2 linked regions of the Homo sapiens genome follow. The protein of the gene in region 2 interacts with the protein of the main gene of each other region in a pairwise test. Each region holds a gene or a part of one and is shown on either strand. Other genes may lie near its edges.

What was found.
Region 1: the proteins of PAQR8 (region 2) and MPP1 interact in binary tests that used the Homo sapiens proteins (3 or more experiments, as listed by UniProt).

What each region holds. Positions count from the first base shown.
Region 1 is NC_000023.11:154,786,159-154,795,489, forward strand, and holds part of MPP1 (55 kDa erythrocyte membrane protein), read right to left. Parts: intron 6,128-9,331; coding exon 5,984-6,127; intron 5,690-5,983; coding exon 5,611-5,689; intron 4,911-5,610; coding exon 4,825-4,910; intron 3,865-4,824; coding exon 3,796-3,864; intron 243-3,795; coding exon 46-242; intron 1-45. UniProt on the Homo sapiens protein: Essential regulator of neutrophil polarity. Regulates neutrophil polarization by regulating AKT1 phosphorylation through a mechanism that is independent of PIK3CG activity.
Region 2 is NC_000006.12:52,356,148-52,366,199, reverse strand, and holds the start of PAQR8 (membrane progestin receptor beta), read right to left. Parts: upstream 4,050-10,052; 5' UTR 3,951-4,049; intron 1-3,950. UniProt on the Homo sapiens protein: Plasma membrane progesterone (P4) receptor coupled to G proteins. Seems to act through a G(i) mediated pathway. May be involved in oocyte maturation. Also binds dehydroepiandrosterone (DHEA), pregnanolone, pregnenolone and allopregnanolone.

The sequences.
Region 1 (9,331 bases), on a different chromosome or scaffold from region 2:
TTGTGGCAGGCACATGGCCCTTCCACCTGCACAAAAATGGCTCACCATTCCTGCAGCTCAGGGGAAGGGATCAATCCTGCTGACTCCTTGGAGGAGCCTTCCACCCGTCCCTGCCACCAATTGCTGTCATCCTTGTTGATAATCTGGATAATGTCCCCAGTAGCAAACTTCAGTCCCGCCTCCTTGCAAGGGATCAGATTGTCCTTTTTGGGATCATAGTCAAACTGCGCTCTCATGAACATCTAAAAAGAAGGTAAAAGGAACTGCAGGCGGCAGCTTCAAAAGAAACACCAGCATCAGAGCATGTCCTGCTGTAGACAAATGGGGTCAGGATGGAATGAACAACAGGGAGGTAAGAATGGTGGGGGAGCACCCAAGAAAGAGAAATTGAAACGCTGAAGTGATTGTGTTTGCGGAGGGGTCAGAATGAATCCCTTTAACAAGAAGGCATGAGAAGCCAGGCGCAGTGGCTCACGCCTGTAATCCCAGCACTTTGGGAGGCCGAGGCGGGTGGAACACATGAGGCTAGGAGTTGGAGACCAGCCTGGCTAACATGGTGAAACTCCGTCTCTACTAAAAATACAAAAATTAGCTGGGTGTGGTGGCGTGCACCTGTAGTCCCAGCTACTCGGGAGGCTGAGGCGGGAGAATCGCTTGAACCCGGGAGGTGGAGCTTGCAGTGAGCCGAGATTGTGCCACTGCACTCCAGCCTGGGCGACAGAGTGAGACTCCGTCTCAAAAAAAAAAAAAAAAAAAAAAAAAAAGAAGGCATGAGATATCTTTCCACGTCAACGTGTCCACAGTTACTGCTGGATCTGGGTCGTCTGTCTCAGTACAGGGCAGCTACTCTTTGAACAACTGTTTTCACAATTGAAAATATGGACACTCATATCTATCAAAGAACTTGAATTTATTATTGAAAATTCTCCTCTCCTGCTCCCAAACACACACACACACACACACACACACACACACACACACACACACACCTACCTCATTACTTCATTGACAAATTTTCCAAGCATCATTTGAAGAAAGAAGGCTAATCTCATACGAAAACAGATTATAGAAAATGATGGCACTTCCCAACTCATTATAAGCATGATACCCAAATCTGACAAGAATCTTATAATTTCTCTCTGCAACAGAGATGTAAAAACCCCAAACAAAATATCAGCAAGTCAAATTTAGTTATGTATAAAAAGTATAATAAATCACAACCAAACAGGATCTAGTTCAGCAATATAAGAAGGTTTACTACCTGAAGGGCAATAAATTCACCACGTTAACATAAAAATGGAAAAAGATCATATGATCCCCTCAATAGATGCAGAAAAAGCCTGTGATAACATTCAAAACCCATTCAAGATTAAAATTCTTAGCAAACTTGGAATAGAAGGGAGGTTCTTTACTGTGAGAAAGAATACCTACAGAAACCCTACATCCAACGTCATACTTCTCAGTGAAAGATTAAAAGCTTTCCCTGCCTTTTTCAAAGGACATGGGTCTTGCTATGTTACCCAGGTTGGTCTCGAACTCCTGGGCTCAAGCAATCCACCCGCCTCGGCCTCCCAAAGTGCTAGGATTACAGGCGCATGCCACCACACCTGGCCAGCTTTCCCTTTAAGATGGAAAAATAAACAAAGATGTCTGCTATCATCACTTCCACTGGGATACTGTGAAGATGCCTCTTTTATCCAAACTGATATGTAGGTTTGACACAGGGATAAACAAACAGTCCAAAAGAAAAGAATAAAAAGTTCCAAAATAGACCTGTAAATATTACCATGACAAAAGTGACAGTGTACAGTAAATGATACTGGTTCAATTGGTATCCATATGGAAAAACTGGAATCTTGACCTCTTACCTTACAATGTATATAACAATCAATCCCAGATGGGTTGTGGATCCAAATGTGAAAAATCAAACAAGTAAGCATTTAGAAGAAAACACAGGAGAATATCTTGTTGACCTTGTGGTAAGTAAAAACTTTTAAAACAAGACATAAAAAGTGCTAATCAGAAAAAAGTGGTAGATTGGATTTCATTAAAATTAAGAGTTTCTAGTCATTAACAGGAACCATGAAGAAAATAAGCCACAGAAGAAGAGAACATACTTGGGATGCATATGACAAAGGACTCTTATCCAGAATATATGAGGAACTGCTACAAATCAGTAAGAAAAGCCTTGAATTGGTATCTTACAAAAGAGGATATCCAAGTGGAAAAAAACATATAAAAAGGAGTTTACCCTCATTAGTCATTAGAGAATTTTTAGAATCACAATGTGATACCACCATCAGGATGGCCAAAGGGTGAAAAAAAACCCAACAAATCAGACAATGCTAAGTATTGGTGAGAATACAGAACAACCAGAACTGTCATACTGTGCAGTTGGGGATGTAACATGGTTCACCAACTTTGGAATACTATTTGGCAATATCACCTAAAGATGAAGACACATATATCCTACAACCTGGCAATTCTACTCTCAAAAGAAAGGCATAGATGTATCCACAAAACACATGCACAAAAATCATATGATTTTTCTCCATTTTTCTGTTAACGTGGTGAATTTATTGCCCTTCAGGCAGTAAATCTTCTCATATTGCTGAATTAGATCCTGTTTGGTGAATGGCAGCCATTCAATGTAAGACCAAAAAAGCTGACAGAATAGATTAAATTGTAGCATGTTCATACAATGAATGAATGAGAATGAAGCAATATAGATGATTCCCATAAACATAATACTGAGCGAATAAAATAAGACACCAAAGAATTCATACTGTATAATTCAACGTTAATACATTTCAAAAGGGGGCAAAACTCATCCCTGCTGTTAGAAGTCAGGGTTATGGTGGGCCTTGAGGAAACACGCATGGTGAGGGGGCGGCGGTCTTAGGCATGGGTGTACTCAGTTTGTGAAAATTCATCCAGTTTTATACTTGTGATTTGTGCCCTTTGTTGAATATATGCCCATATATGCCAAAACTGCAATTTAAAAGTTTACTTAAGAAAATTATACCGTCACACTACAAGTAACCTGCAATAGAAACTTCAGATTTATTCTTTTAAATATCTCCTTCTTCCACATTGACTTGCCATGGCCCTGTCCAATCTATTCCTCTACTGGCTGATGAGCTATGTGTGAACTGGGAACCATTTCTCTTTATATCACCTCCATGTTCTAGCACAGTACTTTGTACATGGTAGACCCTCAATAAATTGTGAATAAGTGCTCAACAGATTCTATCTATCTTTTGTTTCTTTCTTTACTTTGCCACTATCAATCACGGGGCTTTATTATTGCTATTTTAAAAAGTATTTGCCAATTTGCTTGGTGAAAACTGGTGTCTCATGCATATTTTAATTTGCATTTCTTTGATGATCGGTAAGATAAAATATTTTTTCATATGTTCAATGCTCATTTGTAGTTTTCCTCCTGTGAATGATCTCTTCATTCCCTTTACCCATTTTCCTCTTGGAGCTGTATTGATTCCTTACCATCTGTAGAATAAAATTACCCTCTCCCTTCCTACCTGACCACTAGCAGCAAAGGCTCATTCATTCTCTACTCCTGTCGTCACTATGTTCTCCATTGAGGAAAGGGGAATGAGCTCCTGTATTTTATACCAGGCAGGGAATAATGGGACCCTGAGCCAAGCAGCTACACACTTGCGAGATACTTAGAACTTAAAGTTAGACTCACATCCCTTATAATCAAATTTCAAAGAATATAAGACAACATGGCCCGACTCCTGCCATCATGACAACAGAGAAAATGGTGCCACCCACCTGTAGTGCAGGAAGACGGCTTTGCTGGTTGGGAATTACTTTTAATGAGATCATTCCTTTGGTTTCTTTCTATTAAAAAAAATGGACATAAAATTGTACAGAAAACTAAGTTGAATGATGTGATCATTCATTCAAAGTCCCAGGTTTTTTTCCCCAACAACCATCTTTACATTTTGAGATTTTGTAGGACAATTCCTCCTTTAATACAAAAGTGTCATGTGCCCCATAAATCAGCATAACAATATGAAGACATGCAAAGAGTAACAAAGAAAAGCTAACTAAAGACTTTTCCGAGCTGGGCACGGTGGCTCACGCCTGTTGTAATCCCAGCTCTTTGGGAGGCTGAGGTGGGCGCATCGTCTGAGGTCAGGAGTTCAAGACTAGCCTGGCCAACATGGTGAAACCCTGTCTCTACTAAAAATACAAAAATTAGCCAGCGTGATGGTGGGTACCTGTAATCCCAGCTACTTGGGAGGTTGAGGCAGGAGAATCGCTTGAACCCAGGAGGCGGAGGTTGCAGTGAGCCGAGATCACGCCATTGTACTCCAGCCTGGGTGACAGAGCGAAACTCCATCTCAAAAAAAAAAAAAAAAGACTTTTCTTCCCCATTCTTTACCCCAAAAAGTCCTGAAGAAGTTCCTAAAAATGAACTATGGCGCATATATATCCACGCCTTTCCCCATACCAACAAAAGCATTACAAATATTTACATACATTATGCATACATATGTATTGTTTGTTTTTAACAAAAATGGGATTCTACTATATACGTTATAGCTTGCTTTACTTCATTTGGCATTACTTCATGGAACACCAGATTGATGCTCTGGGTTATTTGCCCTGCTTTAGAATTTTACTAAATAAAGGCAGAAAATTATCATTTCTTACACAGATTAAAGACTAGCAGTGAAAAGAGCCCCCTCAAGAAGGTACAAATACTTTGACAGAGAGATGAGGTCACTGATACCAATGTGGATCAACACTTATGGAGACAATGGAAGGTCTTCATCTAGCATAGAAAATACCCACCATCGCCTTCTGCAGCTGATCCACTGAATGATTTGTCACATTTGTGCCATTGATTTCTAGGATCTCATCCCCCACGTGAAGGGAGCCTGCCATGAAATGAAAAATCAATCCACAAAAGAACAAAAGTTCAAACAGGAGCTGTCAATGTAACTCAAGATACCATAGAAGAGAAACCAGGATTTACAGCATGTTATGAAACAGATTGTGTCAAATACTCAGGATTGAAAACATTTGACTTGACAGTTTAAGATGGTCTCATCCTCCTTGGCCTCAGTAGTCCAACAGCACAATAAAACACCTTGTCCTCAAATTCCTGGAACTAGAGTGGCTACTGACTCCAGACTATGACACAGATGTATACACTAAAAAGAATAACAAAGCAAGGCAAAGAACTCAGTACTCCTCTTTCACCAGCAAGCTCCATGTTTCTTTGTTGTTTAGCTCAAACCCCAAAATGCTACCAAGTGGTACTGCTGTCCTTTCCAAGTCTAATGCAATGGGTGGCATGTGGCAATTGCTCAAATATTAACTTACTAGAAAAATATTGGTATAAATAGGTGTGAAAGAAGGCTCAGATAGGGAGATGGTGGCACTGGGCAATTCACATAGAGATCTTATCATGTACTGATTCTACAGAGCCAGTTATTAAGCCACAAAAAGTCTCTTGGCACACTCACAAAAATGCTACCAGTTTGGAGGATTATAAGCTTCATGCCCCACACCACTGAACAGGGAGTAAATTATTAATCCCTGAATCAAACCCCACCCAGAGCTCCCACAGAGTACCTTGTCTATGGATCATGCCACCATGAAGAATTCTGGCCACCGTACAGGACTGTTTTTCATTCAGCTTCAGCGTGATTCCCTGAAATAAAGGCGACGGCACAATAAGCTTTATTTTAAGCTCTTTCTGAGGTTATTTTAGAAAGAACTTACGGTAATTTCTCAGGAAAATATTTTCCATTTATACCCAGGATAGTCCTCAACTAGAACAGGCATGAAGCCTGCTTTGAGGAGGAATTTGAGATAAGAATGAAAAGACAATTTTGGGGTTGGCCAATTCCCTAACTCCATGAGCAGCCTCTTGCATTGACTCTTCTGGCCCAGTGACTCATGGGGCAGAGAGTAACTGGTGGGCGACAATATGACGGGGGATTACCATGGGCTCTTCTGTGACCTTCTCAAACTGTATGAGTCGCACTTTCCGCACCTCCTGTCCCTTGACCTGGGCAGGGCTACCTGGGGCAGGAGACCCGTTGGTGTACATGTCCTCGGTCACAGTATTCAATGGATGCGATACAGCCTGCCAAGCCAAAACAACAAAGCAACGTATGAAATCAGGAGCAAGGCCCACAGCCAGTCCACAATCTGCAATTCTAACATTCAAGAGGCTCTGAAAACTTATTTCATAAGTTTGGCCTCATTCTTATTTGAATTGACATGAAGCTGTTTGTAAGCTTTATTTCTCCAACTTAATAGACATGTCAGCCAAGTGTGGTGGTGTGCACCTGTAGTCCCAGCTACAGTCCCAGGGCAACAGAGTGAGACCCTGTCTCTAAAAATAAATAAAATAGACATGTTTATCTAGGTTGCTGCAGAAATATTAATGTGCCTTGATTTACATGGTGCTCTCCTGGATCCTGCTTGGGGTATTACATAATATATAACAAAATTAGAAAGATTCTGAATCCTGCGGCACCTCAGGCTCCAAGGGTTTCTGGCATGTTCTCTTCTCCTTTGTATTTCCTTGAACAACCTGATGCTCTCGGTCACACAGCAATAAAGGTAATTCAGGTTAGCATCAGTTTCTCATGAATCACCCCTTAGGCTACAAAGAACTTCTACCTGTAGAATTAGGCACTTAGGACTGGGCCCCGAACCGCGGTGATAACAATAATACATTGCCACTGTGACTTCTTCCCCTGATCTCAAAGACAGCAAAGCTAAATGAGTTACTCTACCAGGCAGCAAGGCCTCTTTATTATAAATCTAAAGTAATTTAAGGCACTGTGGTAAGAAGAAAGACAAACGACCCATGTAATGGAACAGAGAGTGCAAAAACAGAGCCACACATTTATAGTCAGGTGACACTGCAGTGCAGCGGGGAAAAATGGTCTGCACGATAAATGTCATAAAAGGTCCCGAGTATAAAATGAAAACTAAAAAGACAAACACTTTAAAAGTAAGAAGTCTATTCATCAAAAAACTCCACTGAGATAAGCATAGATTTAGTAGACGAGACACGGAGCAATCATCATACAAGCAAACAACTGACTTCATCAAATTCAAACATCTTACATAAGAAACTAGACAGGTATGACACAGCCTGAGAATAAACATTTGCAATATTTACATCTGACAAAGGATTTGTATCCAGAACATATAAAGAACTCTTACAATTTAATAACAGGATGAAAAGAACCATAAACAAATCCTGAACTTGAGCCAATGATATGCATGCTGAAGCTTTCAGGGGTAAAGTGCTCTGATATCTGAAACTTATTTTGAAATACCAGGAAAAAGAAGGTGGATAGATGGGCAGTTTTTGGATAGAAATGTGATAAAGCAAACACAGCAACATGTTAACTGTAGAATCTAGGAGGTGTGGCTATATGGGTGTCACTATAAAATTCTTTCATCTTTTTGGCGCCATTCCAAGAGCAGCCAGTACTCTTTAAAAAATATTATAAAATTTAATTTTTGAACCATTTGAGAGTAATCTGAAGACTTCATTCTCCTTTACCCATAGATGTCTCTATATGTTAGGAACGAGCATTTTCAAAACTGAAAATTTAACATTGACACAATATTGTCATCTGCCAACCCTTTCAAGAATGTCCTTTATAGCTATATATTTCTTCCCCAGTCCAGAATCCAACCTAGGACTTTTTGGTCCCAGAATCCAATCTAAGACCAGAATCCAATCATGCATTTCACATTTCCTTACTCTTCCTTAATTTGGAAAATTTCCTCAGCCTTTCTTTTTCTTCTTTCATGACCTTGACATTCTTGAAGAGTACACACCTGTTATTTTGTAGATGTCTCTCAGTTTGGGGTTATCATCTGATGTTTTTTCAAGATTAGACTGGGATTTTGCATTTTTGGCAGGAATTCCAGGAAAGTAGTGGTGTGCCCTTTCCAGAACAACACTACTCTTAAAAGCCCAAACCTGAAAATAGCCCAAAAGTCCATCAACAGTAGAATGGATAAACTGAAGCATATCCAAGTGGATACCCTACATCAATGGCAATGAATGGCTACTGCTACACCACTCCATGGTAGATCACCTGTGGATCAGTCTCACAGGTGATCACTCTCTTCTCCTTAAAATGCTCCTTCTCAGTTTGCTTTGCTGTTCTTTCCTCATCTTACTGATCTGGGTAAGAGCAATCACAATGGGGAAAAACTATGGAAACCTCTGAAAATGCTCCCTGCCCACCCCAGATAAAATATTAAATCAAAAATGATATAGCCACCTGGAGGAGGAGGAGGAGGACGAGGAGGAGGAATAGGCCTGAAGTGGGCTTATGGAAGGGTCTGCTGAAAATAGGGGATAGCTGCATTCCAGTCACACCCAGAGGTGACCCTCAAAGACAGTAGGGAGGGAAGATCTTCCCAATAGGCAGAACTGTGAGGAGTGTGCCATTCACTGTGTGGGGAAGGAGAAGGGTCCCTAGATGGGAATAGATGGTATGCCTGAGCAGTGTCCACTGGCCTGCCCAAGGCCTAGAAAAGGACTAGAAGATGAGAGAGAAGGAAGTCTGGAGTAGAGGCTTACATCATTTCTAAGGGACTCTGATTTCTAAGTAGAAACTTTGATAAGATGGTGAGGTTTGGGCCAGGTGCAGTGGCTAACACCTGTAATCCCAGCACTTTGGGAGGCCAAGGTGGGGAGATCGCTTAAGCCCAGGAGTTTGAGACCAGCCTGGGCAACATGGTGAAACTCCTGCCTCTGTAAGAAATTTTAAAATTAGCTGAGTGTGGTGGTGCAAGCCTGTGGTCCCAGCTACTCAGGAGGCTGAGGCAGGGGGATTGCTTGAGCTCAGGAGTTGGAGGCAGCAGTGAGCCATGATCACACCACTACACTCCAACCTGGGCAACAGAGGAAGACCCTGTCTCAGAAAAACAAACAAACAAACAAACAAACAAAAAACATGGTGAGGTTTGAAGTAGTATTCGCTATCAGGTGACCTCAAATGAGGGAAGTACTGAGAAAGAGAAACTGCCTTCTCTAGCAACTAGAACTTCAAAAAACTCACATGACACCAAGTCATATGGCATTGCTGTTATAACAAAATTGTCTAAGATAGGCTTATATTTAAAAAATTGACTTATGATACCCGGGATACACCATGTAGGTAGGAAAAGGAGGTTCTGAGGGTGATCTTGAAGATTTATTGTTAAGCAAAAAATAATAATAATGTGATGAAGGGTATACTAGCTTCATCATAAACAGTGAAAGAATGATTATATTCATATTTGCTTAAAAATCCATAAACTGGCCAGG
Region 2 (10,052 bases):
CCCATCTTTCTAATATATGTACATATATATATAAAATAAAATTTATAAACTTGAAAAAAAACTAGTGTTGACATTTACAGAAGAGCTGAGATTTCAGTGCCAGGCTATTCTTCCCTATTGTTTAAAAAACACAGCAGAGCAAAACTCACATTTGGAATGAAGGGAATGTTTACCAGAATCGTCTCTTTCAATACGTGCCAAGAGAACTGTAGCTGTTTCGTTAGAATAATATTTTCATTGGATGAAGGGAAAAAAATTAGAGAAGAGGCTTTTAAACTTTTTTCTTTCAGATTTGCCTTACCACACCAAACTGTTATACATAATATACAATCATAACAGGAATGCTCATTTAAAAAAAAAATCTGAATTCAAAAGAAAGTAACTGGGAGCACTGACTCCACTTATTTGGAGTCTGTATTTCCTCGTTTCTGAATAAATAAAAAATAACTAATTGTCGTTGCTTTTCAGGTTACCCTTTAAAAACTCTTAAAAGACCAGGAGGGCAAAAACCAAAATGTTCTATTTGTAGTTAGTTGCAAAACCTAACTGAAGGGAATATCATTACCTGGGAAATGATAAATTTCCACATGGCTTCAAAGGAATTTTAACATAAGACTATCAATAAATAATATTCCTAACAAGAATAAGTAGACTCTGTTGAGCACTCATGATGTGTCCGGCACCGAACTCAAGTGTTCTACACGCATCAATGTTATTTCATCTTCATCACAGCCCCATGAGGTACATACTCATTAATATCTTCATTTTAAGAAAACTGAGGCCAAAAGAGATGAAACAACTTGCCCCAAACCACAGCTAGATCAAGATTCAAGCTGTGGCTGTATGAAGCTTTATGCAACACAACCTGAAAAAAAAAATGCGAATTTTAAAAAGGGATATGTTCAGTACATTTTTTACTGTGTGCCATGAAATCCCAAAGTTGAAATGAATGTTCAGAAATCATTCTCTTCCCTTTACTTCTGTGGATCCTTTCACATCAAAAATCAAGCACCAGGCATTACCTACAGCTGGGGCAAATGGCTTTCTGGGTACCTTTTTTTTTTTGGTGAGACAACAAGTCTTTTGTATTTTTGTTTTGCTTTCTGTAAAAATCCACAATGACAGAGACTGCCTAGTAACAAGTATCAGGAGGGGCAAAGAAAGGCTTACTTTTTCTAGCCCAATAAGCCATAAGCTATAACAATAAAGTGACAGGACCAATTACTTTACATACATACCAGAGCATAAACACCAAAATGAAGGTTGTGCTTCAAAGTAGTTAAGTTTTTGAGGAGTTAAATGTTGTACTCAAAATTTCCACTGTGGAGATGATGGGAGCCCCTAACCCCGGTGTTATTCAGGGACCAACTGTAATTCCTTCCAATCCTAAATACATACTCCATGCCATTACTAAATGCCCCTTTTAGAACTGCCAGTCTTTCAAGAGAATTTTCATTACTTTAATGAGCATACTTATTGACAACCTCGATTCCCCACCTCGGAAGCCCAAGTTGGCCCCGCACAGTGCCTGGCTGTTTCCCAGCTGAGGAAGGTTTGCCACCACTGAGGCAATCAGGAAATGTGTTGCAAACTCGGAAGGCAACTCCAAAGCAGGAGCTCCAAAATTATTCTCAGTAGTGACAGCATCACTAGAATTAGTACACAGCTTGCCAAGAGCAGGCTTTTGAAGGGGAGAAATACTGATTTGAATGTATAAATACTGGCATATTTATTTTAACATTTGGATAAAGAATTGGAAGCATCAGCAAGTGTTACGTCCAAGTGAATAAGTACACTGCTGCAGGAATGATAGTGCAGATTTTGATGCAAGGTCCTGACCACTCAATAAGGTATACACACACCCTTAATGGAAATATGCTTATCCTGAAATGATTCTTGTAAAATGAATAAATCGCTTTCTATCCTGTTAACTTGCATAATTATTAAAGATTTCCTTTTCATGAATTAAAAACAGACCCAACAAATGCTAGTTGCCAAAATAATCCTTGTTTATCCAATGAAGCTCAAATCTCAGTGTGTGTCAGAAGATGGACCTATATGCACCAGAAGGAAATCTGGTGCATACACACACCCGCAAAAAAAAAAAAAAAAAAAACATATCTTTCAATGGATATATCCACTTAATAAGATTCCTCTACTCTGGGTCTTCCAGAATTGGTTGTTACGCCAAATAACTGAAATAATTACCATACATAATTAACAATACAAGATGGGTTAATGTAAGATAGTCAACATTTAACTAATAATTGAAGGACACGCACCCAAGGACAAACAGCAGAAATAAAAAACAAAAACAAAAACAAAGCCATGCCTTGGTCCTTTGTTTTTAGATACACACTTGGATACTCATCCACTGAGGTCCTAAGCAGTCTGGCTCCCTTCCAGTTGACCTGGTCAAGGGTGCAGCAGCTCAGGGCTGGGTACACGTTGTGGATAACCTTAACAGGGCAGTCAAGGGCAGTCTACCTTCCATGCAGGCAACTCCTATTAACTTCAGTAACAGGAGTCTTCACTGACAAGCAAATACTCCCAAACTGTACAATACTCTCATGTTTAACTCGACTGGAATGCAGTGCGTTTGTGGACATTGTTTGGTGTGTGTATTTGTTGTGGATTTTCCTCGTTTTTACCCAGAAACAGCTTCTCAGAGTACTGGAACAAGTAGTACACACGTGGGTCTAAAAATCACACATACAGTGTATTGTATGAGTTATCCCTAAGGCGCGCACACACACGGGTAGGTATTACCTGTACATTTGAAATCTCACTCCATAACTAATTTTTTTAGCCCAGGCTCTTCTCATTGGGTTCCTGGACAAAATCATTTCTAACCCAGCTAAGAAATATGGAATGCAACTTAGGTCAAGACAATGAGCCTGCCAAGGCTCCTGGACTTCCCACTAGTCTGCCAGTGCCTGGAGCACCCACAGCTGCACAGGAAGCTGCTGTGCCCGGCTACCTCCAGGTCCCCGCACCGGGTCGGCAAGGTGCAGCAGCCCCCAAACCCAGGCTCCGAATATTCCCCAAGCGCGCTGAGTGCGAGGTCCCCACCCGCCTCCGTCTGGGGATGCCCGGTCTTGCTCCCTAGACTAGATTCCCTCTCGAGTTATCTACGACCCTGTTCCACCGAGGGCGCTGCGTTCTCATAGCCTAGACAGACGTTCCCAGCGTTCCAGCCCCACCAGCCACCTCCGACACCCCACCGCGGCGTTCCCATCCAGCCAAGCCCCAGCATCCGCCCATTAGCCAGCTGCCGGCGGTTCCCATCACAACTCCGCTCCTCGCGCCCACCCTCTCAGAGAAGCCCCCTCCATCTTTCCCCGGCGAAAGCACATGCCTAGACCCACCCTACTCTTTCCGGGGTTCCCCTACCTCGGGCTGCCCTTCCTCGGGCTCTCCCTACCGCCCCGGGCTTCCTCTCCTCCGCACTCCCCTCCCAGGTTCCGTTCCCCTCCGCCCTGCGGAGGGCGCCCCACAAATGCGGACAGGACGCCCCTCGTTCTGCCCTGTCGGACTCCCCCACGTCTTGGTCCTGAATCTCCCGCCCTCCGGGCTCAGCCTTCCCAACATCGCGGTCCCCACACCCCCGCCAGCTCTCCAGGCTCAGGCTCCATGACTCCCCAGCATCGCAGTCCTGGCCACCCCACTACAGCCGTTCAGAGCTCCAGGGCTCCCCAGCATCCTAACCCGTCGTCCCCCCTTCCGGGCTTGGATTCGGAGACTCAACATCGGGGCCCTAAACTCCGGCCCCTGGCCTCAGGTTCCCAACGCTGCGACTCTGGACCTCCCCTCTGAGCTCGGGGTGCGAGGACTCCCCAACGCCGCGATCCTGACGTCCCCGCCTCCCGAGCTCGGGCCCCGGGGCTCCCCGACCTCGCGGTCCCAATACCCAACTCGACCCGTTCCGCGCCTCCCGCGGCGGGACTCACCGGCAGGGGCGGCGGCCGAGCCCGTGCGCGTAGCCCAGCCCGGCCCAGCCCGCGCTCCCGCCTCGGGGTCCCGGCCACGAGCTTCCCGCGGGTGGCTGTGACCGCGGCGGGCTCGGCTCGGGGGAGCGGCCGGGAGGAGGAGACCGCCGGGGGCGGGTGACGCCCAGCTCCGCCCCTTCCCGACCCGGGGGCGGGATGCGCAGACCCGCGCGCTCCGCTGCAGCCCGCGCCGCTGCCGCCGCTGCGAGGAAGTTGACTGACGCCGCTTCCTTCCACCCAGGACGCAGACCCTCGCAGTCCCTGGTAGCTGCAAAAAATCCGGAGAGTTTGAGACAGAGACGCCTTAACCGCCCTCATATTCTTTCCAAGAATTCACCTCTCAGGGGGCCATTTCCGAAGTCCCTCGGGAAGGGCGGAAAACAATAACAAACTTCATCTGCGCTGTCAAGACTGATTTAAATCCTGGCCTTTCTCTCACCACTCTCGGGTGAACGTTCAGGGTCATGCCCATGATATAAATAATGTGATGACATACCACGGAGGCCCTTGCAGACACTTCCACACCCCTAAGATACACCCGCCCAAGACTCGCGCCTCTCCCATGACTACATCACACAGACACATCTGACACTGACCTGCAGAAGATCCCACTTCTACCCTGTGTCCTCAATCCACAGCCTTCGTGGGTCCCAGCAATAGCGACCCACACATACAATCTATTGGAGGCAGGGTGCGGGGGTGGGTTCCACCTCCCGACTTGCTCCTCACCCACAATGTTCTCGGTATTTTACCATGAGAAAAAGACAGTTAAGAAGTTGGATGATCAATTAACAAATCAAGTTGGCTTTGCTTTTAAAAAGCCTTCTTCATTATCTGGAGAAAAGAGAAGGCCTGGGAAGATGGCCTGCTTACTGTAAGATTTTGTCAGACAGGCCTAATTCTGGTCTGCTTACTGTAAGATTTTCTCAGACGGCCTAATTCTGGTCTGCTTACTGTAAGATTTTCTCAGGCCTAATTCTGGTCTGCTGGTTCCCAAAACTTCTCTTATACCACCGTGTTTCAGTGACATGTTGCACAACATCTCACATTTGTACAATGTTTCCATTTTTCAAAACATTTTAGCCGAGTGTGATGGTTCACACCTGTAATCCCAGAACTTTGGGAAGCCAAAGTGGGCAGATTGCTTAAGCCCAGGAGTTCGAGACCAGCCTGGGTAACAAGGTGAGACCCTGTCTCTGCAAAAAATACAAAAATTAGATGGGCGTGGTGGCACACGCCTGTAGTCCCAGCTACTTATTCTCAGGCAAACATCACGAAGCAAAGAAAGTAATCTTAGCAGGATTATTTCAGTTCCATAAATGAAGACATTTAGACTCTGAGCAGTTGCACGGCAGGTTTGAAGCTGAGTCAGAGCCAGGAAAGAGCCCAGGGGCCTGTCTTTAGAGCCACTGATCTCCCCAGGGAATCATAGTCCAGCACTTACTTATAGGTGGATACTAGTGGAAATGTCACAGGAGGTCTTTGGCAGCTTTGCTCCCTCCATCTCTTCTTCACCCCAAAGATGTCAGGGAACTCTCCCTTAACCTCAAAAACCCGGGCTCTCCTTTATCGTCAAAAACCTATGATAGGCCAGAGGTCACAACCGTACAAGAGGGCTTATTGAGAGGGAGTGAAAACTCCTTCCACTTTGGGCCACTCTAGAAACAAAATTACAGGTTAGCACATCTAAAAGCCTATCCACAGCCTTCATCCAACTAACGTGAGCTGTCAGCCGGGAGCTGATGAGCCTCCGAAATGCATTGCTGATTATTTTTGCAGTGTTTTTCTCCCTAACAGTTAATCCATGTGGAATGTGAAGAAGTCTTAAAAGGAGACTAACAAGGCTTCTAATTCTTTCTCAATGGTAAATGTTCCTTTCTTCTTGCCCTTTATCCAAAAGGCAGATGTGAACGTGCATGTAAAGTGTAATGGGTGTCAGGCATTGTTATCTGTGCATGAGGCAGTTCTGTTTCCAAGTGACGCTGTCCAGAGCCACTAAATAAGAATGGTGGTTCTCATCCTTCATGCCTTTTAAAACTACCTTGGTCTCAAGCTAGCTTCTTTTATTTTCTACTGTGAGGTAATGGCCTACTTCCGTTTGGGCAGTAAAAGTGATGTTTTGGTAACACTGGAAAAAGTCCTAGGGTGACCTGGCTATTTTTGAATTATAATAAAAGCCTGTTGGGTCCTTCATAAAAGACAGTTAGGATGGCCTTTGGTATATGGAAATTCACAGCCAACTTTCCTCTATGTAATAATCCCATCTGGCAACACAATTTTGACCTGAGATTTTTCCAAAACCTGGAAACAGCCAAGATCTTGGGTACTGCAGTATTTCCTCAATAAGGAGAATGCTAAACTGCGAATCCAATCAACACGTATCAGACCTAGTTCCCTTTCAGATTGCCCTTGAAAGCCACAGACACAGGCAGTATGCAAAATGATGAAAAAATAGATAAGATTAAAGAGTTATTTTTGTCCGAATCTCTAATAAAATAATTTGATCTATTTTACATTGGATACATACCACATTGACACTGTTTTTATAAACACTCTACTTTGTGTTTACATATCACTTTTCCAAGAAGCTCAAAGTATGTTTGATGACATCATATTACTCAACTTCATACACTTATATGAAGTAGGAAAGGGGTAAAAACTGGTAGTCTTATTGTAACATGGAGAAATGGAAGTGTGAAATAGTTAAAACCACTTGCCTGGAACATTCTGGTATATATACTGGTTTATACTAAAAGTAGACCTGTTTGTGAAAACTGCTACAGTGAAGAGTTATTTAAAAGCTGTACTATTTTTGTTTTCTTTTTATATCTTATGAAAGGACTGAGGACTATTAATTTCTTCACTATCTTGTCAGAGAAAAGGAGAGGCACTTTGCATAGTGGTTAAAAGTGTGGCCTTGGGAGTAAGAGCCTTCAGTAGGTAACTTAACTTTTCTTCTTCCTTTTTTTTTTTTTTTTTGGAGACAGTCTCACTCTGTCGCCCAGGCTGGAGTGCAGTGGCATGATCTCGGCTCACTGCAACCTTGGCCTCTCGGGGTTTTTTTTAAGTAATTCTTGTGCCTCAGCCTCTCAGGTATCGGGAATTACAGGCACACACCACCACGCCCAGCTAATTTTTTGTATTTTTAGTAGAGATGCCGTTTTGCCATGTTGGTCCCAAAGTGCTGGGATTACAGGCATGAGGCACCATGCCTGGCCAGTAACTTAACTTTTCTATACTTCAGAATCCTTATCTCTAACACAAAAATAATAATTGTACCCACATATCTTATAATGAAGGCCTGATTAAATGGGTGAAAAGACAATGACTTCATTTAAGTGGGTTTTTTTTTTTGAGACGGAGTTTCGCTCTTGTCGCCCAGGTTGGAGTGTGATGGCGCAATCTCGGCTCACTACAACCTCCACCTCCCGGGTTCAAGCAATTCTCCTGCCTCAGCCTCCTGAGTAGCTGGGATTACAGGTGCCCACCACCACACCCTGCTATTTTTTTGTATTTTTAGTAGAGACAGGGGTTTCGCCATGTTGGGCAGGCTGGTCTCGAACTCCTGACCTCAGGTGATCTGCCCTCTTCAGCCTCCCAAAGTGCTGGGATTACAGGCGTGAGCCACCGTGCCCAGCTTAGGTGGTTGTTTATGGGATCTTTGTTTCAATGCTTTCTACTTGCAGAAAAGATATACTATCCCAGTGGACTACATAGGAAGAATTTGGGGAAACTTGAATGTCTGTATTTTTTTACCGTGAAGTCAAATCCATCATTCCTTGACATTCCATGATCAGATAGCCATCCATACTTAGTTTTTCTATTTAGATCCCCTGCCAAATGGCCAACTGGGAAAAGTAACCATGATACTAATTTCACATACAGGATGCTAAAGAACTGTGGTTAGTCAGATTAAAAATAAAAATCATGATTTTCTTGTACTGTCTGTCTATTTTATCCATTTAATGGTGGAATGGTAGGGGCTCACTAAAGCTAATTTGATTTTCATTAGGAATTGCTCATGCCATTTTTTCCTTTTTGTTTACTTTTAATAATAACAATTCAGGGAGCAAATAAATTAACCCATGTAGACAAAAAAGAGATGTAGAAATTGCTCCTGGGCCCTCCGTAAGCCCTGGGCACATGTGAGGTTTTGAGGCCTTATATCTGATCTCTCATTCTCTAATGTAACTAGTTCCTAGTTGAAGAGTTTCAGATGGCAAACTATAAGAATAAATGATAAAAGGACTTAGCATTATTTTAAAAGTCTTATCTAATTTATTTATTTTAAAATTTTTAATCGATGCTAATAATGGTACATATTTATGAGGTACATGTAAATGTTGACATATGCATACAATATGTAATGATCAAATCAGGGTATTTAGAGTACCCATCACCTCAAACATCTATCTTTTTAAAAACATTTTTAAATTAATTTTTTTATTTCAATTTACTTTTTATTTTTTTGAGACAGGGTCTCACTCTGTCACCCAGGCAGGAGTGCAGTGGCACAATCACAGCTCACTGCAGCCTCAACCTTCTGGGCTCGGGTGATCCCCCCACCTCAGCCTCTCAAGTAGCTGAGACTACAGGTGCACACCACCATGCCTGACTAATTTTTTGTATTTTTTTTGTAGAGACCAGGTTTCACGATGTTGCCTAGGCTTGTCTCAAACTCCCAGGCTCAAGCGATCCTCCTGCCGTGGCCTCCCACAATGCTGGGATTATGGGCGTGAGCCACCATTATCACTTATTGGTGTTGGGAACACTTCAAATATTCTCTTCCAGCTGTTTTGAAATATATAATATATTGTTGTTAATTATAGTCACCCTACTGTACTGTTGAACACTGGAACTCACTCCTTCTACCTAACTGTGTGTTTGTACTTATTAACCAACCTCTCTTCACTTCCCCCTCCCTTTCCAGCCCCTGGTAACCATCATTCTACTCCATACCTCCATGAAATCAACTTTTTAAGTTCCCACACATGAATGAGATCATATGGTATTTGTCTGTCTGTGCCTGGTTTATTTTACTTAACATAATGACCTCCAGTTCCATCCCTTTTGGTGCAAAGGATTTCATTTTTTATGGCTGAATAGTATTAATAAAATAATATGAATTCCTACAGTCCAACAACATTTGATGTGTGTAAGTGTTCATTTTAACACCTGTTCCTAAACAAAACCCAGATTTAGGAAATACAGTGTGTAATTGGATCATGGTAATTTAACAGCAAATAAAAGTGTAGATATCAAAACACAAGGCCTTTCCTTATTCTCCAGCAGAAATTTGCAACTAAAAAGCCTTAGGGTAAATGGACTTGGTTTCCCTCCTCTTTAAAAGGTCTGACAATTTTGTTTCTTCTATCCACTTTGCTCCTGATTCTCAGTCATTTTATCCTGGGGGAGAGAGGGAGGTGGGCAATTCCTGAGCACTGGGAAAATCAGAAAGATTGAACTTCAGACTGATACCAAAAGCTTCGAGAAGTTAACATTTCTTTTCTTTTCTTTTCTTTTCTTTTTTTTTTTTGAGACAGGGTCTCACTCTCTCACCAGGCTGATGTGCAGTGGTGCGATCTCAGCTCACTACAACCTCCGCCTCCTAGGCTCAAGCAATTCTCCTCCTTTGGCCTCCCAGGCAGCTGGGATTACAGACGCCCGTCACCACACCCAGCTATTTTTTGTATTTTTAGTAGAGACGGGGTTTCACCATGTTGGCCAGGCTGGTCTTGAACTCCTGACCTCAAATGATCTACCCACCTCAGCCTCTCATAGTGCTGGGATTACAAGTGTGAGCCACTGTGCCCAACCAGAAGTAAACATTTTTTACTCTGCCCAACTTCAGTTCAATCTGGACTGTGTTCTAAAAGAAGATTTTGGAGAGAAATTTCTCAGGCTTAGGACTAGAAAAGGAAAGCCATATGAACTCACCCAGGATGAAAAACCGAGGCTTGAACCTCTGGACTTTGCCACACCCCAGCTGGTATACTGATAGCAGCCTGGAAGTGGACAACTCCCTATAGCTCACTTCAGTTTGTCACCTATCATCTAAGTTAG